Regions from separate parts of the Homo sapiens genome. Here region 2 is linked to region 1. The links come from fine-mapping of genetic effects on gene expression. Tissue or cell type: whole blood. Region 1 holds a variant in brackets; the other region holds the start of a gene. All regions are shown on one strand. Distances are between the middles of the regions.

The links. PIP is the estimated chance that this variant, and not a neighbour inherited with it, causes the effect.
Region 2: it holds the start of PBX3, and the variant in region 1 is fine-mapped to the expression of PBX3 in whole blood (TOPMed, PIP above 0.99).

What each region holds. Positions count from the first base shown.
Region 1 is chr9:125,824,100-125,835,495 of GRCh38, forward strand. The region is part of intron 2 of PBX3 (PBX homeobox 3); the gene reads left to right. Among named protein-coding and RNA genes, the nearest start is that of PBX3, 82 kb to the left of the region's middle. The variant G/T (reference allele first, on the strand shown) is at 6,754.
Region 2 is chr9:125,745,366-125,753,180 of GRCh38, forward strand. PBX3 (PBX homeobox 3) reads left to right here and starts at 2,008. Exons shown (of 9, transcript NM_006195.6): 1 at 2,008-2,288; 2 at 3,185-3,258. The coding sequence starts at 2,089. It overlaps PBX3-DT (PBX3 divergent transcript), which reads right to left and starts at 564. Exons shown (of 2, transcript NR_122032.1): 1 at 51-564. RefSeq lists silencers at 1,103-1,532, 1,783-1,832, 1,843-2,372, 2,643-2,982.

The DNA.
Region 1 (11,396 bases):
AAAGGGTTAAAGGATTTTTATGAGCTTGATGCCAGGTGTTTGACCTCTGTATACAACTACTATTATTATTTTTAGCTTTATCAATAAAGGATGAAACATAAGGAAGTGTCCTGAAAGTGAAAGTAAGAAAGATTGTGGTTTGATTTGTAGAGGGGCTACGTAACCACTAGAGTGAAAAATGACTGGTCCGTTTGTGAGTCTCTGTACCTGTTGATCTGTCTTGGGTGTGTGCTAGATATGCCTGGAATGAAGAATCTTAACCAGAAGCATGCTCAAGGGCCTGTCCACAGTTCCGTTATTCCATGATGCCTTATTGATCCAGTATTTCAAAGGAAAGTATACCTTTCTTTATTATGAGAATGCATATTTAATTAATTTGTTGTGCACAGGACACTTAGGCTTCTCATTGCTGTTTTCCAGGTGTCTCAAAGGACAAGATAACTCTAGTCTCCAAGGTATATTGTAAGTCTAGTCCTAGGCCTTCCTAGTTTATAAGGAAGTTAACAGGGTCTAGAAAGATACAGTCTTTCAGACTAACAGGTTCTTATTGATTGTATTAGAATTTAAATTAGAATCTATATGATGAATTACATTTGATGAATCAGTTGGCTTTTTTTTTTTTTTAAATACTCATTGCTTACTAGACAGTGGGGGACAACAAAGTCTCCAGAAATGGCTGATCTCAGCATTGCTATCTGTAGCCGCAGCTGTTGTTATGTAACAATAACGATAGCTACCATTGACTGAACGTTGACTGTTTGCCATGCGTTGTGAAAAGTGCTTTACATGCATTAGTTCATTTAATCCTTGTATCAACTCTATGATTTAGGCCACTGATTCTCGGACTTTTTGTTTTCAGGATCTCTTTCCATACCACATTTAAAATTAAAAATAATTGAGAATTGCCAGGCATAGTGGCTCACGCCTGAAATCTCAGCACTTTGGGAGGCTGAGGCAGTGGATCACTTGAGCTCAGGAGTTCGAGACCAGCCTGGATAACATGGCGAAACCTTATCTCTACAAGAAATACAATAATTGGCTGGGCGTGGTGGCATGCACCTATTTTCCTAGCTATTCAGGAGGCTGAGGTGGGAGGATAGCTTGAACCTGGGAGGTGGAGGTTGCAGTGAGCTGAGATTGTGCTACTGCACTCCAGACTGGGCAACAAAGTGAGACTCTGTCCCCCGCAAAAAAAAACAATTATTGAGAACCTAGCAAGCTTTGGCTTATGTGGGTTATATTTATTAGTATTTACTGTATTAGAAATTTAAAAATTTTATTAGTTTATTTTAAAATAACAATAACACGTTAGCATAAGTATCATTTTAAAATAAAAAACAACTTATATTTCCAAAATAAAAAATTAGATGATTGATATTGTTTTACTTTTTTTTTTTTTTAACAAATTCTTTAATGTCTGGCTTCAACAGCTGTTTTCTCATATTTCCTTCTGCATTCTGTTGTGATGCCATGCTTCACGTAGCCTGTTGTCAACTTCATTGTATACTCATGAACAAATTAGAGTTAAAACAGAAAATGTGACATCTTAATGAATTATGAAAACAGTTTTGACCTTGCAGAGCCCTGAGGGTACCTCAGTGACCCCACGGGTACCTGGGCCACAGTTTGAAAACCACTGATTTAGAAAGTATCCTCATTTCATCAGTAAGCATCACTGTGTACTTCTGCTATCCTGTATTGCTAACAAGTGTCCATTTTTCTTTTTTACTCTCAATTTTGGCATTTAGAGGATCAATTCATGATTGTGATATCGCCAAGTTTAATGTAGTAGCTTTGTTTAGTTTAGGAATCTTATTTGGGAACTTGCCTAGAATGTCCTGGAAGGAAGTCTGTTTAATTTTGCATTGGGAGATACTTTATAAATGTTAGCTGTGGGTGGCAGTTTTCAACCAGTTAAATTCTACCATTATCTTTGAGAAAGGCAATAACGTTAATATTTAACTAGTTCCAGAAGTTAGGATAGAACATTTAATTCCAGGAGAAAACAGCTAAAATTGCCTGTAGTGAATAGAGATTCTCGCCTAGTAAATTCCTTTATTTACCACAATCTTACCAGGTTCTTTTGAGGCATGATTTTTACCTGTTTTAACATTTTTCATGGCTCAATTATTTTACATATAGGATTCTTTGAAAAAGAAGTGCTTCCTAACTTTAAATTCAAATAATTTATTTACTATTCTCATATCTTGATTATTTGTCACAAATGATATAGTAATAACCTTCCTTTCTCTTCAAAATGTTTTTATGTGAAGTTCAAACAGAATTGAAAATCAGATAATATAAGTCTTGTCGACTCTAGCTTGTCTGGAATATTCACAAATTAATGAAGGGTCATTGGTGATTATGGGATTTTTTCCTTTGAAAATATATCTAATGAATACATAAGATATATTTCATAAACATAATATGGTAATGTCACTACTAAGTATTTAGACAGTTCAGCTTATTGGGTGATGACACACACTTTTTTTCTTTGAAAATATATGCATAAGATATATTAAATATTTGAAAAATATAATAAAGGTAATGTCAGTACTAAGTATTTAGATGGTTCAACTTATTGTGTGATGACTTTATTCAGAAGAGTGGATTGCTCTGACCCTTAATTATGGACATATTTTTTAATTGACACATAATATTTTCTATATTTATGGTGTACATGTGATATTTTGTTGCATGCATAGAATGTGTAATGATCAAGTCAGAGTATTTAAGGTATCCATCACCTTAAGTATTTATTATTTCTCTGTGTTTGGTAACATTTCAAGTTCTTTCTTCTAGCTACTTTGAAATATACCACACATTCTTGCTAACTGTAGTCACTCTACCCTGCTATCAAACATTAGAAATTATACTTTTAATCTAACTGTATGTTTGTACCCATTAACCAATCCCTCTTTATCCACACCTCCCACCCACACCCCTCCCAGTCTGTGGTGTCTGTCACTCTATTCTCTACCTCTGTGTGATCAACTTTTTTGGCTCCCACATATAAATGAGAACGTGAAATTGGGACATAACTTTTAACCCAATAAAATTATGCAGTATATCAATGAATGTATTTGAATGAATTATTAGTGGTAATTCTGAAGTAAAGACCCATGTAGGGTATATGGACTTTTTGCATTTTGATTTTTGCTTATGAAATATTTCAAACACATAGCCTTTTATTTCTTCCTGTTAAGTTTAATAAATGTTAACATTTTGCCATCTCTGCTTTAGACATTTATTTTTAAAAAATATCCATTTACATATGTTTGAAGTTTCCCCATCCGTTCAGCTCACTAACTTCCCCACCCCAAATTAGTACCTATTTATCTTATGGTTGGTACATATTCTTCTCATGTGAAAAATGCTTTTACTACACATACGTGTATTTACAAATAATGTTAGTATTTTTAGTATTGACAAATATAATGTGTATATATACACATATGTAATACCTATGTGTCGTATATACACACTGTACATCTTTTTGTAGCTTGATTTTTTGCTCACCAGTTTTCAACATGTACTGCATTGATTTTGATATCCGTGAATTGATTTTATTAGTTTTACCTGCTTTGTAGTATTCTACCGTGCAGATGAACTTCACATTCATTTCACTACTGATGGATGCTTACATTTCATCTGAAATTTTGGTATTATAAACATGCTTGTACACATATTTTTGTCCATATGCAAGAATTCCTCTGAGGTATATAACTAGGAATAGAGTTGTTGGGTTTATAGAGTATGTGTATATCCAACTTTATCTGATGTTGCCAAATTGCTTTCCAAAGTGGTTGTACCAATTTATATTGCTACCAGTAATAAGACTGATACAGAGGTTTGTTCTGGAACTACGCATTTTGGAAGGATCAGAAACTAAATTCATCTAGGACCTTAGTCTTCTGTGTCCTTATTTGCTGGATACAGATATTAGTAGTCCTTAGGTTTGGACTTTTGCTGGATATAATGATGTGTATTTTGTATTTTTAGGAGTACTAGTTTGCTGTCCAGAGGATTTACTTTGAATTATTAGTAAACCAACAAGATAAACACAGAAGTCATTCAGTTAAATACATTTTCATCACATTTTCATTGGGTAATAATTTTGCTTTTGACCTATCAGATCTGAGATATATATACTCAGAGATACTGAGATATATGTACTGCCTAGACAAATTTTCCATAGTTTACAGCAACAAATGGTTTATATAGAAATGCTATATTAAAGTATATTTTTATTTGTTAAACATAATTTATTAGGAATAGAACAAAAACCAAGTCACAATAATGATTTATCAAAACAGAGCCCTATAAGAAGGGAGATGGGAATGAATACAGCTCTTCTGCTATCTTGAAACATTCTGTATTCTAAGCCAATTAGAACTGGTAATACAATTTTACCAGTTGGTCATTTAAGAAAATGCAAGATTAGAAAAACATTTGATGATCCATCTGGAAAAAATAAGATTGGTCAGTTTTTTAAACTACTTTCTACCCTCAATTAGCATATCATGTCATATCAGACCAAACATAGTAACTTTGAGCTATAGTTAAACAATTTACTTATGATAGGAAGTTATTGACCACAAGGTCTTCTCACAGATTAAAAGTTTGGTAATATGTTTAGAATGTTCAGTTTATTCAATTTGTTAGAAAATCAAAAGGAACGTTGAGTCTAAACGTCGTTTGACAGATTTGTTTGCCTTTATTCCTATTAAAAGTATTTCAAAACCTTTGATTTGATTCTGAACATCAGTAATGTAAGTCGCCTTCTTTGTTCTAGGATAAACAGAACACATGCTTCTGCAGCTCCCTTGATCAATGAGAAAATGCCTTATATCAAAACCACATGGCGAGAATGTAGCTGTAGGTGATCCCCTGAGAGGTTTTTTGATTGGAGCTGGGAGTCTGGTATTGAAAGAAGAGGGAGACAGACAGGTTGTTTGAAAAAACTCCCATCAGACCAAATGCTTGTGTTGGAGCCATGCTACAACATTTTTCATGTAGAAAGTGCAACTTTATCAATTTTAAATGTTAAAGACGATTCGTTGCATGATTGTAATAACATATTTTCACTTTGGAATTTCTGTATACATCTCTCTGTATTTCATTAGCTAGTGGCCCAGAAATTCATTTATTCACATGCTGCTTGTCAGTCTTCCATTTCTAGAATTTTATTCTCAAACTACATCATTACAAGATTCATTATTTAATTTTTAAAGTCAAATGCAACCGAGGTACATTTTCTTTAGCTAATATACACTTGTCACGTTTCTGGACAGCAAGAGAAAATAAGCTTGCTGATTTGGTTTATAATTATATGTATCATATTTATGATGATATTCTTAAGAATTCTAATATTAGGTGAGTAATCTCAACATTTAATTTGCTAGTCAGGGGTTGCTTTAAACTTTTGTACATACGTAAGTTTTGGTGCAATTTAGTTAAAAAACTCATTATAGGAGATGAGTATGTGCTTCATTTTTAATATTTCCTCCATTCACTTTGAAGTTTCCTTTGAAAGCCAAACTATTAGGCTTGTTATGTCAGCTCTTTCCTTAAATTAAAAAAAATGAGCAACAAAGCAGTAATATTTTAGTGTTTTTCTGAAAGAAGAGAAGCAAAATAATTGTTTTAAGAAGATTCTAATTGAAGAGTTAGAGTGCCATGGTCTTTTCAAGACTGGTTTGGTCCTGGTGCTGCTCCGTGGCAGTGGAGCTCTAGATGCCTGGCCAAGCATCCCTTACCGACATCTGGAACCAGTTGCAATACATCACTGTCAAAACTGCTTTCTATACGTATCTGCATTTACACATTAGTTACCCACGCAGCACTCATCAAAAAAGCTGAACAATCTTGACATGGTGTCCCTTGTGGAACTGCAAAGGTGAACTGAAGTTGGGAGGCAGTGTCTCGCGTCACTGTCTGCTGAGCTCTTACAACAGGAAGCTTGATTAAAAGTGAAAGGAAAAATTTATCAGTTGTCTCAGCACTGTAGAGTTCAGTATAATTTTTTATTTACAAAAGCGTTATTTTTTGCTATCTAAAGCATACGTAATATGAGCATTCAACTGATTTTGTTTAGAAATAAGAATATTTTTATTTTTTAGTTGAAAAATATTGCCTTGCATGTTTCTTAGATTTGCTATTAGTTATATAATCTATTTTATTGTTCATGTTAAGGAAAATGTAAATTTAACAATAGAACTATGAAGAATTATAGATACAATATTGATAGCACTGTGTCAGTTAAATTTAACTGAAGTATAGCATAAAATTTCAAACAAACAAACTTCTTTAATGTTACATTGGTGATAGTAATGTTTGTGTTTATTAATTTTCAAAAAGCTGAGTAATAGAAAAGTACTTATTTATAGGTGTTTTATATTTGTGTATCATATGTGTTTTTGAAAATGAAATAAGAGTTTTGAACCCCCCAAATTGGCTACTTACATAAAGAACTATACAGAAGCCTTTGCTATCATATCCTCTATAATAGTAATAATAATAATAACATTAATACTAATGATGACAGTGGTTAACATTTACTGGGCTCTTTATGTACTAGACACATTTTGTCTATTATCTCATTCAAACTTAATAAATGGAGGTAATATTTTTCCCATTTTATAGAAGGAGAACCATGTTTAAAGAAGCTAAGTAACTTGTCCACATTCACAGTAAGTGTAGAGCTGCGATTCAAACTCTAGCTGTTTGATTCTAAGTCATTGTGGTTTTTTT[G/T]TTGTTGTTGTTCATTGGTGTGTATGTCTTACTTTTTATTATAAAATTTCCCCCAAATTCACAAAAGTAGAGGGTACAATGAACTCCTGTATAACCACCAGTCAGCTTTAACCACTAATATGTTATACTTGTTTTGTATCTCCGTGCAGATTCACATTCCTTCCTCCTGCCCCCCACCTGTCCTTTTTCATATACCATTGACTTGCTGAAAAAATCAGAATGTTTTTCCTGTAGAATGCCCCAATTCTAGATTTGGCTGATATTTCCTTGTGGCAGTATTTAATTTACGCTTCTATTTGCTGAATTTCTTCTAGACTAGAATTAGATCTAAAAGCTTGATTAGATTCATCATGCATCACATCAGCCATAACGTTTAGTCATCTTACTTTTTGCAATGCTAAGACTGATTGATCAGTGGATTAGGTAGTGCCAGCCTGATTTCTTCATTGTAAAGTTCCCCTTCTTTCACCTAATGGTTTTACCATCTATGGATGACCCAGTGCCTGGATTACTGAATTTCTTAGGCCTTGAAAATGGTCCACTTGTTATTCTTTCTGTATTTATTAGCCAGAATGTTTTTTTTTTTTTGAGATGGAGTCTCGCTCTGTTGCCCAGGCTGAGTGGTGCGATCTCGATTAGCCAGAGTGTTTTAAAAGAGCTTTATCCATTCACTAGGGCTATTTGGTTACCCAGAAATACAATTCATACTGGAAAGGCAGTATAAAATATTTAATTCTTTCCCTTTAATTATCAATTTCCAGAGTAATGAGGTAGTGCCTTAGTATCCTCCAGTGGTGTATAACTTTTGATTTTTTTTAGTAGTTATTATGAAGTGTTGGCTTTTTGTATATGTAGTGTGTTTTAATCAGTTTCAGACATTATACTTTTTGATGCTGAAATTGTACCACATTTGTCCAGTGGGAACCCCTTCAAGTTGGCTCCTGTGTCCTTCTGATAAGACTCCATTTTTAGCTTTTTTAGCTTCTTACTTTCTGGCCCACCAAAACGTGCCAGGCTCATCTTGTACATTTCCTCCACCAGATGTAGAATCTGCCATTTCTCCAAAGAGCCATGGTTCTTTTTATTGAGGAGTGATATACAAAGGCCAAAATTTGAGCCTTAAGGGTACTTATTGCTACTGGGTTGTTTGCTTTCAGGAAAAGAGAGGAGATAAGTGAGCTCACATTGATAATTCTAACTCAAATGTAAGATTACAGGGTTTCACTTAAGTTCTTAGATTTTATATTTATATATCTTTTATGACAAAAAATTTATTCTTAACAAAATTAAGATAATTACTTGATTTATTCTATATATTGTTATAAATATATACTGGTTTTCTTTTCTTTCTTTTTTTTTTTGAGACGGAGTCTCGCTCTGTTGCCCAGGCTGGAGTGCAGTGGCGCGATCTCGGCTGACTGCAAGCTCTGCCTCCCGGGTTCATGCCATTCTCCTGCCTCAGCCTCCCGAGTAGCTGGGACTACAGGCGCCCGCCACCACGCCTGTCTAATTTTTTGAACTTTTAGTAGAGATGGGGTTTCACCATTTTAGCCAGGATGGTCTCGATCTCCTTACCTCGTGATCCACCCGCCTCGGCCTCCCAAAGTGCTGGGATTACAGGCGTGAGCCCCTGCGCCCAGCCTAATGGTTTTCAGATAACAATTGACTACTGACTGAAGTTAAAACTTTCTGTGCAGTTTTTTGGGAGAGGGTCCTCAAATTATATTTCACTGAAGAGATAGACAGTTATGTCATTTAATTAGTTTTTCTATTCTTAGGATTGTTTTCCCTCATGACTTAGAGCCTGAATGGCAAGTGACTGTCCTCAGATTCACTTGCTTAGATTCTCAGATATGATAGTATTGATCTTTTTCCCTTTGCAGGTATTTATTTGTTGGTGAGTTCTGGGTTTCATGGCTTTTAGGACCCTTTTGTATTTCTCTTTACCACCACTGCTTCATATAGCTGCTGATCACAGGTCTTGCTGCTGTTGGGTGTTTTTGGCCACACCTATCTATAATTCCAGGGTTTAGGAGGGATTCCTTGTCACCTGCTTTTGTAGGAAATGTCATCTGTGGTTTATTATTTCCTGATGGCTCTGTCTGGTTTTGTGAGGGAGTTTGGTGAGACTTAAAAGTACCTACATTGTTATGTCATTTCGGGAAGTTCCAGCATCTGTGTAATCTTAACCGCTGTAGCATGCAACTTGGTTTAAGGAAAATTTCTTTGAGCTTTATTCTTGGGTGCTAATTATTGAAGTACAATTAGGAAGGGGAGCAAATAGGGAGAAGAAATTTGTGTTTACTGAGTTCCTGCAATATGCTAAGAATGTACTGGTAATGAAAAAAATTGGCCAGGCGTGGTGACTCATGCCTGTAATCCCAGCACTTTGGGAGGACGAGAGAGGTAGATTGCCTCAGCTCAGGAGTTTGAGACCAGCCTGGGCAACATGAGAAACCCATCTCTACTAAAAATAGAAAAATTAGCTGGGCGTGGTGGTGCACACCTGTAGTCCCAGCTACTTGGGAGGCTGAGGCAGGAGGATCACCTGAGCCTGGGATGTGGAGGTTGCAGTGAGCCTTGATTGCACCATGCCACTGCACTCCAGCCTGGGCCACAGAGGGAGACGCTGTCTCAAAAAAAAAAAAATTGTTTTATTGCTGAATCCTTATAATACCACCGTAAATTTTATATCCTAATTTTATAGATTAGAAAACTTGAAGATTAGTAAAACTTGAGGATTAACCTAATGTTGTATGGCTAATAAGTGACAGAGGTGGATTCAAACTGAAATGTATTCAAATTCTGTGTTTTTCCCTATTTAGACTAAATTTACTTTCTAGGAACTTTTTGTAATATGATTTCGTTCAAAGGAGGCTTGCAGAGTACTTGAAGCTAAAAAGTTTTAGGTGGTCTAAAACTTTTGGCTATTTTGAATAATGCTGCTATGAATATTTGTGTATAAGTTTTTGTGTAGACATATATTTTCATTTTTCTTTGGTATATACCTTGGAATGGGATTGCTAGGTCATAGATAACTATGTTTAACTTTTGAGGAACTGCCAGCCTGTTTTCCAAAGTGGCTGTACCATTTTGTATTTCTACCTGCACTCCAAGAGGGTTCCAATTTCAGTTTAACTTTAAACAGTATCATTAATTGGATAAACACTGCTTGCTTTCTCTGAGCCAGAGATTTTTCTAGATGTTGGGAATACAGCAATGACTATGGCTGACAAATATGCTGCCCTGAAAGACCATACAATTAAGTGCAGGGAGACAGATAATAAATAAGTCAATAAATAGAATAATTTCGAAGCATGATAAACATTATGAAGTATTGACTGAAGTAGGGGGAGACTTTAGAAAAAGTAGTTTGGGAAGGTTTCTGTAAGAGAAGGAAAAATATGAGCTGAGACAGAGAAGTATAGCTGAGGAGGGAACAGGGAAGAAAAACTCTAAAGATGTCACCTTTCAACAAGTTTTTAAGGTGATACATTGATGTGATAGTGGCTAAAACTAAGAATGGATCAATTATTTTTACTTGTTTTTTTTATTTTTATTTTTTTGAGACCGAGTCTCACTCTGTCCAGGCTGGAGTGCAATGGCTTGATCTCGGCTCACTGCAACCTCCACCTCCCAGGCTCAAGGGATTCTCCTGCCTCAGCCTCCCGAGCAGCTGGGATTACAGGCACCACCACTGCGACCGGCTAATTTTTGTATTTTTAGTAGAGACGGGGGTTGCGCCAAGTTGACTAAGCCGGTCTTGAACTCCTGACCTCAGGTGATCCGCCCACCTCTGCCTCCCAAAGTGCTGGGATTACAGGCATGAGCCACCTCACCCGACCAATTATTTTTACTTGTTTGTGAAATATTTAAATCTCAGCTGGGCATGGTGGCTCATGCCTGTAATCGCAGCACTTTGGGAGGCTGAGGTGGGTGGATCACCTGAGGTCAGGAGTTTGAGACCAGCCTGCCCAACATGGCGAAACCCCGTCTCTACCAAAAATACAAAAAATGAGCCAAGTGTGGTGGCAGGCGCCTGTAATCCCAGCTATTCAGGAGGCTGAGGCAGGAGAATCGCTTGAATCTGGGAGGCAGAAGTTGCAGTGAGCCAAGTTCATGCCACTGCACTCCAGCCTCGGTGACGAGCAAAACTCTGTCTCAAAAAAAAAAAAAAAAAAAAAAAAAAAAAAAAAAAAGGGCAAAAGATATGAAAAGACAAGTAACAGAAAAGACAATACAGATAACTCTTAAATGTTGGAAAAAGTCCATCCTCACTCAAAATAGGATAAAAAATAACAATTACTACTTATTGAGTGTTTACTATGTGCCAGGCACAGTTCTAGGCATCTCATATGTATTATATTAACTTGTTTTATTTTCACAAGAATGTTTGAAATTGCAGTATTAATATCCTTGTTTGATGTAGGAGGAAGAGGAGACACAGAGGTTAAGTGACCTGCCCAGGGATGCACAGCTCCAAGTGAGTGGCAGAGCTGGGAGATGGCCCTAGAGTCTATACTCTTAACCGTTATATTCTACTGACTTGCAAGAGTCAAAACAAAAACAAAGAGACCACCTACAGAATGGGAGAAAGTATTTGCAAGCTATTTAATTGACAAGGGATTAATAACTAAAATATG
Region 2 (7,815 bases), 81 kb before region 1:
TTTTTCATATCCTCATACCCCTATTTTTGGTTTCAGGTAAGACAGCTTACTGAGTTTGGAGAAGGAACAAAGAGACTTTTCCGAACCACCGAACCAAAGGACTCATCTAGGGTGAGCTCAATGAATCTAAAATCGGGAACACACATTGCAGCCCCTGTTTGGGAAATCAGCTTAAGAGCAATCTCAAGTCTCCACAAGAGGCGGAGGTCCATATTCCAAAATAATGTGAGCCTTCAGTTATTTGTAGGTAGAATTCAATGGAAGAAGGGGTGTTATAGATACGAAAAATCGTGGCTGGCGTTACCAACATTAAATGACTCGTGGTGATGGGGTAAGTTGACAAGTGAAATCCAGTCTCTTCCTAAACAAACGTATCTTTGTAATGAAGAGCTCGTTTTTGCAGCTTCAGTACATCTGGAGGCATCGAATAGCAAACGCTGCCAAAGGAGTAGTCCCTGGATTATCAGGAGTTGCAGAGTGTGTAAAGTGTTGTAAACCTTGAAATTAGTCCTGGACTGAAGGCACTTTCCCTCCTCCCAGACTCGCTTCTCTCTGACACATTTCCCCTTTCAATGGAAAGTCTATGGCAGTCAGGTCCACTCAGCTCAGACTTCAAGTATGTGAGACCACAGGTTCCCACCTTAACTGGTCACCCATTGAGGGACAGCACAAGACCCCGGTGCTGGCGCCAACGCTGAGCTGCGCCCTCTCGGTTACCATGGCGACCGCAGGCGGGGCGAGGCCCCCACTCGCCGCTTCCCCGCCTCTGCCCAGAACCTTTCGAACGCTCCAATTGGGACGACCCTTTCTTGCCTCTGTCCCGCCCCATTCGGCTCTAAGCGCTTTGCGATTGGCCCGGGACGAGCGGCCTGGTACCCAGAGGGCACCACCTCCTGACAGGAAGAGCGGGAAAGTGCACCAGGAGCTGTCCGAGGCGTGAAGCTCACGGGCGCGGCGGGGGAGCACACGGTTGGCTTTGCAGCGAGTTGCCCACTGTCCCATACACAACCCCCCGCTCCCATGACTGCCAAAAGCATGGAGCAGGAGTCGGGGTGCGGGCACACCGTTTGTGGGCCGGCCCGGTCTATCCCGGGGGGCTAGGACGCGACGAGGTTGGAGCGAGGATCCGGCGGCACACTCCGGAGCGCGGAGTATCAGAGGCCAGAGGGAACGGGCCGGGCCCCGGGGGCGGTGCCGGCGGCGGCGGCGGGAGGCGCAGAGCCCAATGAGCGCGCGCACCGCCCCGGGGGCGGGGTCTGAGGAGCGCTCCCCCGCCCTTGCCAGCCCCCGTCCCTCCCCCCGGCGCGGGGCCGCAGTGAGTGAGTGGCACTGGCAGCCTGTCAATCCCTCGGCCCAGCGGCCTTCCAGCCCGGTCCGCGGCGGCTGCTGGCTGGGTGCGCGGCTCCGGCGGCGGCGGCGGCGACTTCTCCCGCCCTATCCATCGGCTGTCCGCCCGGCGCGCGGCCCGCCGGGGCCCTCCTCCGGGCTCAGCGCCCCCGCCGCCTCTGCCCGCCCGCTCCCAAACTTTCCTCCTCCGCCCCCCCTCGCTCCCCGCGGCCCGCCCGCAGGCCTCCTCCTCCGCCGCCGCCCGCCGCCGCCGCCGCTGCCTCCCCCGGGGCCGCCGGGGCTCGGATCCCGCCTGGCCGAGGCGGCGGCGGCGGCCGAGGAGGGCAGTGCGCAGGCTGGCGCGGGGGGCGGCGGGCGTCCCGGCAACTCGGCGGGCGCTGAGGAGCAAGTTGCGCGGGGCCGCCCGGCGGGGCGCGCGGCGGCGAGGAGGCGGCGCGGCGGCCGCGTGAGGGCAGCGGGCGCCGCCGCCTCCGCCTCCGCCACCGCCGCGGAGCCCGGCGCTTCCGCCCGCCGCTTCTCCTCAGCCTCGGCGGCGGCGGAAGCCGGAGCCGGGCGCCCGTCCTCATCGCCTCAGCCGCGGGCCCTGCCGGCCGGGCCGCCCCCTCCCCGCGCGGGCGGGGAGCGCGCGGCCGCCTCCCCCTCCCCCTCCCCCTCTTTCTTCTCCTCCCTCGTCGCCGCCGCCGCCGCCGCCGCCTCAGCCTTCGCCTCAGCCGCCGCCCGCTCCCGCCCGCGCGCGGCGGGATGGACGATCAATCCAGGATGCTGCAGACTCTGGCCGGGGTGAACCTGGCTGGCCACTCGGTGCAGGGGGGCATGGCCCTGCCGCCTCCCCCGCACGGCCACGAAGGGGCGGACGGCGACGGCAGGAAGCAGGACATCGGCGACATCCTCCACCAGATCATGACCATCACCGACCAGAGCTTGGACGAGGCGCAAGCAAAGTTGGTGTCGTCTCATTAAGCATCTTTTGTGTGTGTGCGGGAGCCGGGCCCGCGGCCGAGTCGAGGCCCGGGGTGGCGCCCGGGGCTAGGGCCGCAGCCCCCGGCGGGGAACTTTCTCCGAAAGCCGGCCGCCCGCCCCGGCCTCGGGGGGACTTGCCCGCGCCCCCCGAAGCGGGCGGGAGTCGGCAAAGTTGCTCTGGGGGGCTCGGGACGGACTCGGTGCGGCGCGGATTCCGTGGCGTCCTTTCCCCCGTCCTGCCCCTCGCAGCCCGGCCCCCTCCCAGGGATTTAAACCTCCCGCCCCGACCCCGTGCGGGCCGCGCCGCCGGGAAGTGTAACTTTCTCCTCCGGCGGGGAGTCCCGGCGCCGGCTCCCGCGGCCGCGGGACGACCTCGCGATGCGGGCGGCCACCCGGGCCCGGCGCGGGGCGATGGGCGGTTCCCTGGCGGGTCCGGGTGCGGACGGCCAAGTTCTCGGAGAGGGAGGGCCGCCTTGCAAACTTTGCCGAGCTGTCACCCTCCCGCTGGCCGCAGTCGGCCGGCCTCCTCTGCACAGGAGCGGACGCGGGAGCCCCTCCGCACCCGTCCCCTCCCCCGGGTCGCCTTCGCCTGCCCCCGGGGCGAGGCTCCCCGCGCGGGTTCGCGTCGCGTCTGCAGTGGCCGAGGCTGCTGCCTGCCGGGCAGATGGGTCCGCCTTGTTCCGGCTGCAGCTTTCGCCGCCGGGGCTTGCTGGCTGTCGGGAACTAGTCAACTGGAGTTTTTGTTGACTTCCCACGGTTCAAAAGGGCCTTCCAGAATGGGGGGCTGGAATTAAATCTTGGGTCTAACTTAAAGGAAGGCGCCATATTATTCCATAGGTGATGCTAATACCTTTGTGTTTCGTTATTTGTTTTTTAGGAAACATGCCCTGAACTGTCACAGAATGAAACCAGCGCTCTTCAGCGTCCTGTGTGAGATCAAAGAGAAAACAGGTAAGACGCTGCGCCCCGCAGTGGGCCTGGAGACCCCCGAGGTGGGGGTCGGAGCTACTCCTTCGACTCTCCAGTTGAGAGCTGCTGCTTTTGGGCACCGCCATCTTTGATCATTCTCTCCTTCCCACGTCCTGATCTTGAGAAAAAACTGCAATAAATCTGGAGTCAATTTCTCAGTTCTGCTCCTGGTGTAAAATGAAGTGTAGGTGCGGACCGGGCTGGATCGCCGTCCCTCGGCGGCCGCCCCTGGCTGCAGGCGGGGAGGGGGCCCGGAGCGCCAGCCGCCCTCTTCCCTCTCCTTTCGCCTTGTTTGTGTGTCAGTTTTTAAAAGGAGCAACGGGAGACTGGATGCCAGGACCGAGTCCCCGGGAGAAGCATCGCCCGAACTTTGTTTTACTTAGACAGTCTTAAGCTTCAGCTGCACGGATAGAAGAATAGATGCAATTGAACAGACCCCAGTAGCATGCTTGAATTAGTGTTTTAGGTGGGAAGGCTACTTTAGAGAATCGAGGAAGGGTAATGATGTGTAGACACATACGATGTATTACATCTGTTAATACTTGTATTATTTTGTATTCTGAAGTCATTACACTTGTAACTGTGCTTAATATATAAAGTATAAAAAGGTCTACAGATGCAGGTTAAACAATTTTGAAGTGTCCAAGTCAGGGAATATATAAGAAGATAGGTTTTGCAGAAGTGCTGGAATGAAAACTACAGGTACATATTTGGCAAATTTTTGGCAATTCGTTTCAGTTTAACTTTCTTGTCAGACTTTATTAATTGAAGGTCTTTCAGTCTTGACGTGAGGTAACTGCTCAAACTGAAGCAGAGATTTGGATGTTTTAGTTTGTATTTGGCATTATCTTCCCTGTATGTGGCAAACAAGTACATTAAACAAGCTCTACTGTTTATTTTTTTCCTGTTCTTTTCTTTCTTTTTTTTTTTTTTTTTGGTGTGTGTTGGATGTATGGTATTTTAAAGTTGCCATTTTGAAAGTTGAGGCAAAGGAGAAAAAGTTGAAGTCCAGGATATAGCACTATCCAAGGGAGGCTATTTAGAAGGTTACATGTGATTGTGTTTAAATTGAGTGTACAAATAGCACAGTGCAAATAATTGTTAGGTTGATAGGCGAGTCAGCCTTCTTTGAAACAGGTTTTTCGCTTTGCAATACTATTCTGATCCTAAAAGTAATCAAGAAAAGATGATGAGTTATTGCTGTCTATTAAATATATATGCTAAACCATAATAAGCAGCAAATAATAAGGGAGGCCAAAGAGTACTTTTCCTGGTTTTCATTCACATATTATGGCTGGTTTCTTAATGCTCAGTGATCCTTTCTTGAATTACTAACTTTTATTTTGTGTTGATTTTTAGCTACCTTTAGAAAGCGTTTTGATTTAAAGCAGTAGATAATTTTTATCTGACTGTAAAATAAGACATCTAGCATTCAGTCTTGAAGATTCTTAGTTTAGAAGCTTAAAAGTATGCAATTCTCAGTAAATTCTGATGCTTAGTGTCCAAGGGTTTTCCTGCTATCAGGGCTCCACTTCAGTTTCTGCTGACAGCCAAGCACTGGGGTATTGACTATGTTGTGAATATTAAGATTGATTCGACTTTATACAGCCTTATATTACTAGGGAGAGGGGATGGATACTTATCGCTTCTCATCCCCTTCTCATTATTTGTATTTATTTATTTATTTTTGCCTTTTTAAAGTTTTGGCCTAGCTAGCTTGAGAACTAAACCCAGCAAACTGCTTTTCATGTTGAGACATTTAGCAGCAGGCAGAATTCAATTAGGAAGCATAAGTCCTTTAGTTGCTTATTTGCACAGGACTTAGTTACACCATTCTGAAAGGAAAGTATAGTCAACCACATGTCAAAGGTGAGTTACGAAAAAGAAACAAATCTTTTCAAAGTCTGGGATTACTGGCAGAGAGAGCTTTGGTAGGGCTATTGCTATTTAAAAACCAAGAGGCAGCTGACAAAAGAAATTTTTGTGTTTTAAAATTGTTTCTGGGGCTTTCAGTGATAACTTGTAAATTAGATTCTCTTTTTGTGCTTTGGCCAGTGGATCCACATTTGCACGTTATCTCTTTTGTAAAAAGCCAACAGCCGACAAAGAGTAAAGGCGGCTGTCTGGGTAGAGGCATCTTCCTGCTAGCCTCTCTAAGCTCGAGAGGGATGGGATTTAAGTACTGAGTGATTGATGGGGGTGAAGCTCTTTCTCTTCTTTCCATTCTCCCCTACTACCCATAGCTTCACCTCACTCTCCAAAACTAGTCTTAGAATGAGACAGGGACTCAGAATCCTCAATTCGAAATAAAACAGCTGTGTAGACATTAGTGTTACCAAAGCAAAGAAAGCGGGGCTGCAAATTCCAAGCCCCCCCACTCCTGCTTCCATAGTCGGTCATGCTTTAGAAACATGAACTTATAAAAGAAACATTGTAGAATATATGTATATTGCATAAATATTTTTTAAAAATCATTTTATTTAATCTAATAATACCTAAAAATTAATTCTTTGTAATTTAGAGAAAGTTTACCTAGTCATTTATGAATAGAAACCAGAAACATTATGTTGATGACTCTATTCTGCTTAATGAAGGGGGTTGAGGGTGAACTGTCATTTCAGTGGATAATGTCATTTCAGTTGTGCTTTTCTTCTAAAACAAAACAAAATCATTTTAAAAAAAATCTGTTTATTTGTAGCTCTGCCAGTGGATTTTGAGGTTTCTGATCAGGCAGTGAACACTGCCAGTTCTTATGCACATGGGGGATTTAGTTTAGAAAACATCTGTTTCCCCCTCTACCATATATGAAAAGGTATTTTTCCCTTCTGACAGATAAATGGGTAATCTACTACAATTATATTATTTTCTTGTTGAGAGGTAAGGAAAGTATACTTCTACTATAAGATGCTGCTTTTTCTTGAGAATATATTCTTTCGTAAAATTGATCATACCATTATTTTTGGGCAGAAATGTCTCTCATTGTTGAATTGTGATATTTGTGCATTTTGAGAGCACCCAAAAAGTTGTAGGCTTTAAAATAAAAATAGTTGTTTATTTTAAACCAAGTAACCAGTGAGATTATTGTTGATATGTTAAGATTTTTCTCCTGATTTTTAAAGCCATATTTTATCATCTGTCTCTTATTAAATATCCCTGATGCCACAAGGTCTGCTCACCTGCATACCTCTTTTGGTGTATGCCCCCACCTCTTTTTGGTCATCTTAATCTTAATTGTTGAAGTGCTTTCCTTTGTGAAATATTTCATCCTGAAAAATCTTGTCTTCTTTCCAAAGCCCTTAATTGTGCGAGTTTAAGTGAAGGAAATAGTTCTTTTTCAAGAAAAAAATATTTATTTTTTAAATGAAATCCCACATTTTAGTAGATAATATGAATCACATTATTGTGAAAAATGTTATGCATGAAAAAAAATAAACACAACCTTTTCCTTTTCAAATAATAGGTTAAAATACTCCATGTTGATGGCTGCCAACCAAACTCTGATTTATTGCCACCACAAACCCTAAATAGCGTTCATTTACTAGTAATGTCTAATGGCATACATGATGGTTTGCCAGATTTGTAGCCTTTGTGAGGCTTATAAGTAGGACTGACTTGGGAAGATCATAAAACTTAATGAACTTCTCTACTGCAGGAGGTGTCCGCAGGGGAAGAGAAAGGCCTGCTTGGTTGGTTGGGCTGGTTGAAGTATTTTTTATGTTTAAGGAGAAGAAAATGACTAGTAAAAATGCCTTACTTTTAAAGGAACCCTCCCTAGAAAGAGTCATAAGAATTTTAGATATTAAAACTAGATCAAGAGTATAGTTTACAAGTGAGGTTTTATGTGCATTTAGTATATGATGTGAGATTAAACCTTTTATCTTTATTGCTAGAAGTGTGACTAGCTTTCAAAGAGACAAGGCAGTACTGTCATTCGACACCTCTCTATTTAATTGTGAACCCACAGGTTTAGAGACTCTTTGGAGTCTTTTTTTGGTGTGCTTCTCTTTTTAAGGTTTCAATATAAAAATCTGTTACATTTTTCTTTGTACAGTGCTGTGTGATTCTTTTAATTCTACATATGTAAAAATCAATTTTTTCAAGTGAAAATTTAGCAAGAAAGGTGAAAATTGTTATATATTAGTCTAAATGTTATTATATATTTTGCATATGCTTTTAAGTTGCTCTTGCACTATTTCCAATATAATTATCATCTTTTGTTTCAAGTTTTAAAAACAAATGCACTGTTCCATACATGATTCCTTTTTGTGTTTTCATGAAACACATTTTGTTTTAATGAACTTATTTTCAAGATTTTAACAACTTTTTATTGTGGACACCTTTGAAACATAACATGCAGAGAGCAGAGACTCTTGAACCTCCCATGAACTCAGTGCCCATCTTCAGCAATTAGCAATACTTGGCCAGTCGTGTTTTCTCTGTAATTCCCACCATTCCAAAATTATTTTGAAGCAAATTTTAATGGTTCTTTAATGTTTTAAGTTTCATATCAATTTTAAGCATTAGGTCTGCTTATATTGG